Linked DNA regions of Homo sapiens: region 2 is linked to region 1. Evidence: fine-mapped expression QTL. A gene starts in region 1. The other region holds a variant in brackets. All regions are shown on one strand. Distances are from middle to middle.

Region 1 (4,516 bases):
GGCAGTGCCCACTTTAGGACTGAATGCCTGCTGAGTCCTGGGGGTGGGGGAACCACGGCAACTCCACCTCCCCCCAAAAGAGGATTCTTCCCAGAGGACTAGTACCTGATTTCAATAAAACCCTCTCTGCTCCCATTCCCTTCTCAGGCCTGAGCTGGTCACCTGAGCTCAGGTGACAGAAATTACAAAAGTGAGGGGGATGGTTCCCTTTCCTCCCAGCTCTGCCGCTGAGGACATGGAATAAAGGTGCTTTCAGGGAGAGGAAGGGCACCCCTATTCAGGCTACACCCAGGCTGGAAGAAATGCCCAGGATCCACTGTGCTGGCCCGTGCCCCTGGTGCCAATCTCTACTCCTAGAGAGCAGGGAGGAGGGATCCCTTCCCTCCCCCTCCCAGGCCTTGATGACCTGGAGCCTTCTCCTGGCTGGCGCTGCTCTCCCTCACAGGGTCAGAGAAGGGACTCCAGAAGTCCTCCTTCCCTAGAGCGTGGAGGGCGGGAAAAGGCAGGGAGGATCCTGTATGAAATCCCTGCGCTCGGAAGTCTTGCCCAGCCTGCCTGGGTTTTCTCCCGGGGAATCGGTTCCCAGAGCATCGGCTGGCTTTGCTCCCCCACGCCCGTCCAAGCCTCTGAGAGGGCGGGGCCTGGCTGTGTCCACAGGAGAACGGCAGTGCCAGGCAAGCTAGCCTGGCTCCGTGCCAAGGTCCTGCACCCAGACATCTGGGAACCTGCACCTCGGCTTCCAAAAGCCTGGGCCCAGATGCCCTCTCAGCTCTGCCTCCGAGATATCCACATCACCCATAGTGTCCGCAGGCGAGCGGACCAGCAGTGAAAGGGAGAGGTTTCTTCCAACCTCCCACCCATCCCTCCATCCATACACATACAAAGAGGTGCGGAGAAGAAAGGTCTGACAAAGGCGCTTTGGAGAGCGAGAGGTCGCGGGGAGGTCTGGACAGAACTGAGGGCCAGAGGATGGGGTCGAAAGGCCAGGCGGACGTGCATGCTTGGACCATCAGATCACCCCTGCCCCAACGGACCCAGCCCTAACACCCTGGGCGCTAGGACCTGGGGGAGGGGGGCGTGTTGTGAGCCATCAAAGAAGGCTCTCTACGTGCGCGCCCGCCGGAGACCAGGGATGAGGTCACTAAATGACTGCCCCGGCCAACCCCCACCCCGTCTTTATCCGCACCGCCCCCCCCTTAATTGACCTAACTTTCTAACCCTAGCTCTTCGCTTCTGGCACCGGTCCCCTCCCAAGTCTCCAGACCCTAACCCTGGCTCCCGACCCGCCCCGCTACAGCTTGGGAAGCGGGAGAAGCAGCGCGCGCCCTTCTGCGGACCCCCTCCCAGGGAAGATTGTGGTGTTAGCTGCCTAGGGGGACCAGGGGGCCACCGGGACCCAGCGCAACCTCTGTCTCGCTCCCCAACCCCCGGAAGCGCTAACAGCACGGTTCTTACGTAATGCCGGGCTTCTAAGTACCCCCAACCCGCACAGCCCCCGGGGAGGCCGCGCAGATACCGGGGCCCCTCACAGCTCACCACCTTGGTGCCTGAAGCCACTTTGGAGCCCCTACCGCAGGGGCGGGGACCAGTGTCAATGGGCAGCGGGGCTTGGTTCTCCCAACCAGCACCCCAGAAAGAGGGCCCAGGGGCGGGGGCGGGTGGACAGGGAGGGAACGGGCCTGGGTGAAAGGGGCCTGTGGAGTTTAAACCCAGTGAATAGGGTCCTAAGTGCCGTGTCAGGACGAAAAGAAGGCGGAGGTCTTGGGATAGGAGCTGGCCCGGGGGCCGGGGGACGCCTACCTGCGCCCCGGGAAGCCCCTAGCTCCGGGCGGCTCCAGCGCAGCCGGGCGCTCAGCGTTTATTGCTTGTCAATCGCTAGCCCGGCTCTTAAAGCGGCAAGGCCTCTCCGCGAGGGGGCGGAGGTCCGGAGGAGAGGGGAGGTGAGGAGAACGCGGAGGCCGGCACAACTCGGAGGAAGTAGTCTTTCCCAGCAGCTGGTACGGGGGCAGCCAGGTAGTGGTTTGGGAGACACCGCACAGACCACGACGCCCTGCTGGAGTCCCACTGGGAAGGGTTAGGGAGGCAGGACTGGTACCAGTACCCGCTGGTGCCCCTCGGCTCCCAAGGATCCCTTAAAGGGGCGATGGTAAAAGTGCCTAATGAGACCGGCTTGATTACTCCGCCCACCCATCTTGGCTTAGACCGGCGTTCTAGTTCCAGGCGTGCCTCACTTTTCCTCGTTATCCTGCTTCCATATTGAGAAAAAGAATAGGAGGACTTCAGAGAGACTCCCAGGAAGCAGGATACCAGCCCCAGAAGGCCTCGGGATCAGGGGCAGCTTTTTAAGGACTCAGAGGGTGGATATCCGGATTCCAGACTTTCCAGAAATTTTGCAAAAAAGAGGAAATGTCTTCCTGAAAGGATTCGAGAGCCTCTTTTAGGTCTAGGTGAGGGAGGCCTGGTCCATTTTCCTGCCTATGGAATAAAGAAGTAACTGGCTAGCCTTCCTCAGAGTCCCAGCCCAAAAAGTAAATAAAGGGTTAAACCCACTGGCCCGCCTTCGCCCAGCCTCCGGCTCCACCCCACATCTGCTAGTAAAAGATGCTGGGCCTCCAAATACGGGAGGCTCTGTGCAGTGCGACTAGCATTTGGGGCCAGCTACGCTACTTCTCCGACCTCGGCGTTCAGCCACCCCGTCCAGTTGCCCTGAACAAAATGTGAGAGTCATCCCTTTTCCTTGCTAACTGGATTCCTAAGATCATAAATGGACTGCATCTTTGGCCGGGCGCGGTGGCTCACTCCCATAATCCCAACACTTTGGGAGTCGGAGGCGGGAGCATCGGTTGAGCCTAGGAGTTCGAGACTAGCCCAAGCAACATAGTGAAACCCCATCGCTACAAAAAATAAAATAAACAAAATTAGCTGGGCGTGGTAGCGCGCGCCTGTAGTCCCAGCTACTTGGGAAGCTGAGGCTGCAGTGAGCCGAGATTGCAACACCGCACTCCAGCCTGGGCAACAGAGTGAGACCCTGTCTCAAAAGAAACAAAAAGAAAAGAAATGGATTACATTCTGGAAACTTGCTTGGAAATCTCAGAAATGGGAATCTATCCCGAAAGCAGGGGACTGGTCCCTGGGTTCCAAGACTCAGCTCTCCCCTGAGTTCCAAGGGTATAAGTTTGGATATAGGAAAAAGCCACAGAGGCGGCCGAACTGCTGAAAACCACATTGTTTAGGTGACCCAGGCTTTTACTGAGAGAAGAAAGCCATCGAACCCAGATAGCTTTGACAGGAATTGCAGGCTTTGGTCTCTAAACAAAGAGGGTTCTTGGAGCGCATTGCTTGCAGCTCTTTCCTCTATCTGCAAGCTAGAAAATCCTTCTTCTTCTTCTTCTTTTTTATTTTTATTTTTTGAGACGGAGTTTCGCTCTTGTTGCCCAGGCTGGGGTGCAATGGCATGATCTCGGCTCGTCGCAACCTCTGCCTCCCGGGTTCAAGCAATTCTCCTGCCTCAGCTTCCCGAGTAGCTGGGATTACAGGTATGCGCCACCATGCCTGGCTAATTTTGTATTTTTAGTAGAGACAGGGTTTCTCCATGTTGGTCAGGCTGGTCTCGAACTCCTGACCTCAGGTGATCTGCCCACCTCAGCCTCCCAAAGTGCTGGGATTGCAGGCATGAGCCACTGCACCCGGCCTAGAAAATCCTTATAATTGAATTCAGGAAGAGTTCCCCTTTCCATTATAAAGGCTACCCTCCACTGTCACCTGTCCACCTCTGGGCTGGAAATCACTCAGCTATTTGTATTTTGGAAGAGGAAGGATCTTGAATCTCTACAAGATATTAATTACTTCTTAATCAAGCAATTATTACCTCCATAGCGACCCACATCAAATCTTCCATTCCATTTAGGATCCTCAGGACAGTCTGGGATCTCAGATTCTGGCCCACCTGGGGAGGTGGAGCCCAACTCATTATTCTTAGCGGCTGCCCCACTGCATTCGTCGGTCAACAAGTATCTCTCTAATAAAGGCCTTGCAGAATGCCAGCCTCTCACATCTGTTCAGGACCTTACAATTGACAAATTGTTTCATTCTCACAACAGCCTTGTGCAGTTACAGAATGAGAAGAAACATTTATTGATGCAGAATAGGATGCTCCTCTTCTGTGCCAGGCAAGGTACCACTTACTGTGATACTGAGATAAGGGCCCTAACCTCCTAGAGTTCACAGTCTGGGGTTGAAGTCGGAAAGGAGTGTGTTACATAGATACAAAAAGCGCTTCTTGGTAGCACAGCTGAATGCCATAATAAAGGTGCAGTGTGTCCTAAGCTGTTCCCCAAAGGAATAGAGCTGCTAATGGTTGGCAATGGAGTAGCTGGGAAGGGAAGCAGGTTTGAAGGTCGGCAATGCATCCCCTAGTAGTTAAGGGCTGCCCCCTACCTCAAGAGGGGAATGAGTCCTCCTTCTCTGAGGTTTGTAATTAGCTCTGCCTTCCTCCCTGCCTCAGCCTCAGAGGTCA
Region 2 (4,000 bases), 32 kb before region 1:
GATACGGGAGCAAGAGACTGGCCTCTGGCAGTAATGGATCTTGGAGATTTTTTTTTTTTACTATACCTTTACACGAGAAGGATAAGCCTCGATTTGTTTTCTGTGCCTTCTGTTGATTGGAGAAAGCCTGTTTCTCATTATCAATGGAAAGTTTTACCCCAAGGCATGCTCAGCAGTCCTACGTCATGTCAGCATTTTGTAGGAAAAGCATTAAGGAACCTCAGAATATGTTTCCCACTGCCTATAGATTTACTAACGTGGGGACGAGGGTATGCTTATGTTTTTATAGGAGATGGACAAACCATGTGGGTGCCCTCAAGGTGTGTGCAACCATGGAACAGGAGACTGGAGGGACCCATGGATCCCAACCATGGGCCTGGTTCCCCTGGTATGAGCCATGAGCCAGTTGAATCTGAGTGCAAAGACAGAGTGAGGACTGACCAGAGTCACACTGACATCAACCCCCATAACATGAGGACAGATTTTGTTCAATTAATGTAAAAACAAAAAGGGGGAGATGTTGGAGGCCGAAAGAATGAGGGTCATGATCAACTCAGTATACCACTGGAGGCTGTATGAGCAAACTGTTCTCATAATGCAGAATGCTGGCAAACTGACAAACTGCGTCTGCCACCCAGAAGGAATGCTGAGGGCAGTCACACCTCAGGCGCAGTGTTTGTGATTATCTACAGGCACACATGAAGCCTGTCAGCAATTATGTGAACCTGTGATAAATCAAGCAGCTGACCAAAGGTTACCTGCTCCTCCCTGCTCTTTCTACCCAATAAATATGGAGGGCTGTGGAAGCTCAGGGCCCTTGCTCACTAGAAGCAAAAGCAAGGACCCCTTCTTTAAAGCAGATTCTTTTGTCTTGTTTTCATTTCTGCATTTGTCCTCTTTTGTTCGGTCCTGTAGTAACTGTCACAAGTGGCGTACATCCTCCTTCATTCAGTCCCATAGTGACAGTCACACAAGTGCAGGTATCTTTTTGGTGGAACGATTTCTTCTCCTTTGGGTAGATGCCCAGTGATGGGATTGCTGGAATGAATGGTAGTTCTATGAGAACTCCCCAAACAGCTTTCCACGGGGGCTGAACTAATGTACGTTCCCACCAATAGTGTATAAGCACTCCCTCTTGTCTGCAACTTCACCAGCATCTCTTATTTTTTGACCTTTTAATAGCCATTCTGACTGGTGTGAGATGGTAACTCATGGTAGTTTTGGTTTGCATTTCTCTGATGATTAGTGACGTAAAGCACTTTTTCATACATTGTCACTTGTATGTCTTCTTTTGAGAAATGTCTGTTCATGTCCTTGGGTACAAGCACTTAGAAGGAGCATCTTCTGGGGATGGGGGAGTGTGCAGGGGCAAGACAGAGGAAAGGAAGACATCGCAGAAAACAAGACATGTTGCTCTGACTTCCATTCTAGTAGTCATCTGTGCTGTGCTCCCCAGCTCTCACTCTCTCCCAAAGCCATCCATCCAACCCCAACCAAAGAAAAGCAGAGCCAGAAGCCTTTGCTTTCACATTTAATCCAAGGAAAAAGAAAGAAAACCAATCAGTGAGAAAACTCAAGAATTGGATGGCTGAGGGAG[G/A]GAACAGAGGAAGCGCACTGGGGCTGGGACTGAATATGGACAGTGGATGGTAGGGTCCTCACTCTCTTGAGGTCCCTCAAATACAAGAGTCCACAATGGCAGGGAGGGAGAACAGAGTCATAGAGCTGTGGTGGGGGCACACACCTGTTCCAACCCAGCCCCAGCCCTGTTCCAGGTGAGCCAAGGACTGACAGCCTCTGCTAGGTACCTGGGAGGGCTGTGGAGTGAGGGCTCAGGCAGGGGAGGTAGGAGGCTGCTCAGAGAGGAAAGACCGAGAAGAGACAGGAGGGAAGGGCCCCAGGCCTGCCCCTTGAGCATCCCTAGCAGTGAAGGTGCCATGAAGGCCAGGTACCCAACCCATCTCCATCAGAGATGATGGTCATTTGGATCAAGGGGGCAGAAGCAGCTGCAACAACAGATCTTCCCCTGCCTCTACCCTCAAATCCCCCAGAGAAGGTAGGAAATGGCAAGTGACCCTATAGCCTCAGGTCAGCAAGAAAACACCCCATTTCCTTCCCACTCCCTTAGGCTGAGGGTGATGCAAGGCAGAGCTGAATCAGGATGAAAGGACACTGACTAAGGGAAAAGAGGAGCAGGAGAATGAGTGTGTAGTATACGCAGAGCCACACCAACGAGATGGGGGCAGGCCTGGCCTTTCCACCCCATGTGTATAGTCTATGCAAATGCAAATGAGATTCCTAGTATAAGAAATATATTCTAACATTTGTAATAAATATTCTGTTTATTCTCCTTCCCCTTCCCTAGGAAATGGGCACACAGTGGTTCAGGGGCCAGCTTTGGCTGACGCTGCAGCGAAGACTAGTTAGACACTTGGAAGAACTGGGAGGCACAAGGGTTTGGACTCAGGGTGTCACAGGTTGTCCCCTCTGAGGACAGGCTCCCCCCGGAAGGAATGCAGAGAATAATGAAGGATGAGATGCCCAAGTACATCTAGGACAGCATTCTTTCTTAAAGGGAGTCTCCTATTTTACAAAACTGCCCTCCCCAAGTTATGGCAGGGGGGCATTTAGGGTAGGGGGACAATAAGACAAGGGAGGAGACATCAGGAAAGGACCAGGGCTTTGGAGTCTGGGATCAGGGTATTATAAGAAATGAGGGCTGATGGGGAACCCCCAGAAAGGGGCCCCAAAGAGTGACCTCCAAAACAAAACCCTTTGCTTCCTCCCCAAATTAAACCTGACACACACACACACACACGCACGTGCACACGCACACACATACACACAACCTGGTGCCAGAGGCACAGACAGGTGCCGAACATGCACGTGGAACCACAGGTTGTACAGACTACAGTGTAAATGGCGCCTCTGGAGTTGTGTGTGAGGAACCTCCTGGAGGGCAACTGTCCTTCAAGCCCAGGCTCCCAAGGTCCCCTCTGCACTCCTCCTTAGCCCCTCCAACCCAGCAGCCCTGATGCAAGTGGGCTACCTGGACCTGGCTAGACAGAAAACCAAATGGACCAAGGTCAAGGACATAGAGCTCAGACCTGTGCCTGCTGTGGGCCATGGAGAGCTTGGGGCTCTTCAGTTGGTAACAGCAGGTTGTCACAGGGCTCAGCCCTCCATCCTGCCCCTACCTGGGCTGAGCCCACTGGCCCCTGCCAGCCTGGCCCTGTGGGGAGCAGGGCTGACCTGTCAGGACACATTGGAGAAATCTGGAGAAACTTCGGCAGTGAGAAGCTGTGGATGAGGGAAGGACCGAGCAGCATCTGCCCTGCGACCCTGTCCCTTTCCAAAGGAGCTGGGAGCTGCAGTGCTCTGCAGCTGTGGCCACTAGCTCTCACTCTGACTCCTCCAGCCTTCAAGATGGCACCAGGCTGGCACCACCACCCGGGCCTGCCTGGCTGCCAGCGGGCCACACATTCCCCTGGTCACACGGAAACAGCCCAAGGCCTGTTCCTCCGACACAGGGGTGAGAGGTGGGAGGAGTCCAGGAATGGGGTGGGTGTGGCCAGTCCAGAGGAGAACTGGTGACTGGGGAGGGGTGGCAGGGGGCAGTGTGCCTACTGACCATGTGGTCCCAAAGCAGCTTTTCTCTTCTCTGTACTGACCATTATGGAGGTGACTCTGACACATTCCTGGGCATAGCTTGGCCCTCAGAGATATCTGGTGACCAATGGGCATCAGGAGTGGGCAGCACCTGGGCACAAGGTACCCCATGAATGCCCACCTCCCTGGCAGTGCACGCCTCTGTGCTGAAGCCAGACTTAGGGCCTGCTGGGAGCTGTTACCCAAGGACAGCCAGATATGGGGGCTAAGGATTGTGGCAGGGGGTCACAGGTCAGGAGGGGGATGGATTCAGGTTCTGGGTTTCAACACAGAGTGAGCCAAAGACCAGGTGAACAGGCTCAGTACACCCAGCTGACAGGCACCCACTGGGGCT

Direction of the effects. Alleles are on the strand shown, and positions count from the first base shown. SD is a standard deviation of normalised expression in the study named.
In carriers of allele G in region 2, the expression in nucleus accumbens of the gene that starts at base 1,863 in region 1 tends to be higher than with A alone (moderate effect, 0.54 SD a copy in GTEx).

The links. PIP is the estimated chance that this variant, and not a neighbour inherited with it, causes the effect. A credible set is the group of variants that fine-mapping cannot tell apart.
Region 2: its variant is the best candidate, but not a certain one, in a credible set for the expression of MPP2 in nucleus accumbens (GTEx, PIP 0.84).

What each region holds. Positions count from the first base shown.
Region 1 is chr17:43,905,674-43,910,189 of GRCh38, forward strand. It overlaps MPP2 (MAGUK p55 scaffold protein 2), which reads right to left and starts at 1,863. Exons shown (of 13, transcript NM_005374.5): 1 at 1,801-1,863. RefSeq lists an enhancer at 1,873-2,022.
Region 2 is chr17:43,873,842-43,877,841 of GRCh38, forward strand. It overlaps MPP2 (MAGUK p55 scaffold protein 2), which reads right to left. Exons shown (of 13, transcript NM_005374.5): 13 at 1,519-4,000. The coding sequence ends at 3,966. Among named protein-coding and RNA genes, the nearest start is that of CD300LG, 29 kb to the left of the region's middle. The variant G/A (reference allele first, on the strand shown) is at 1,598.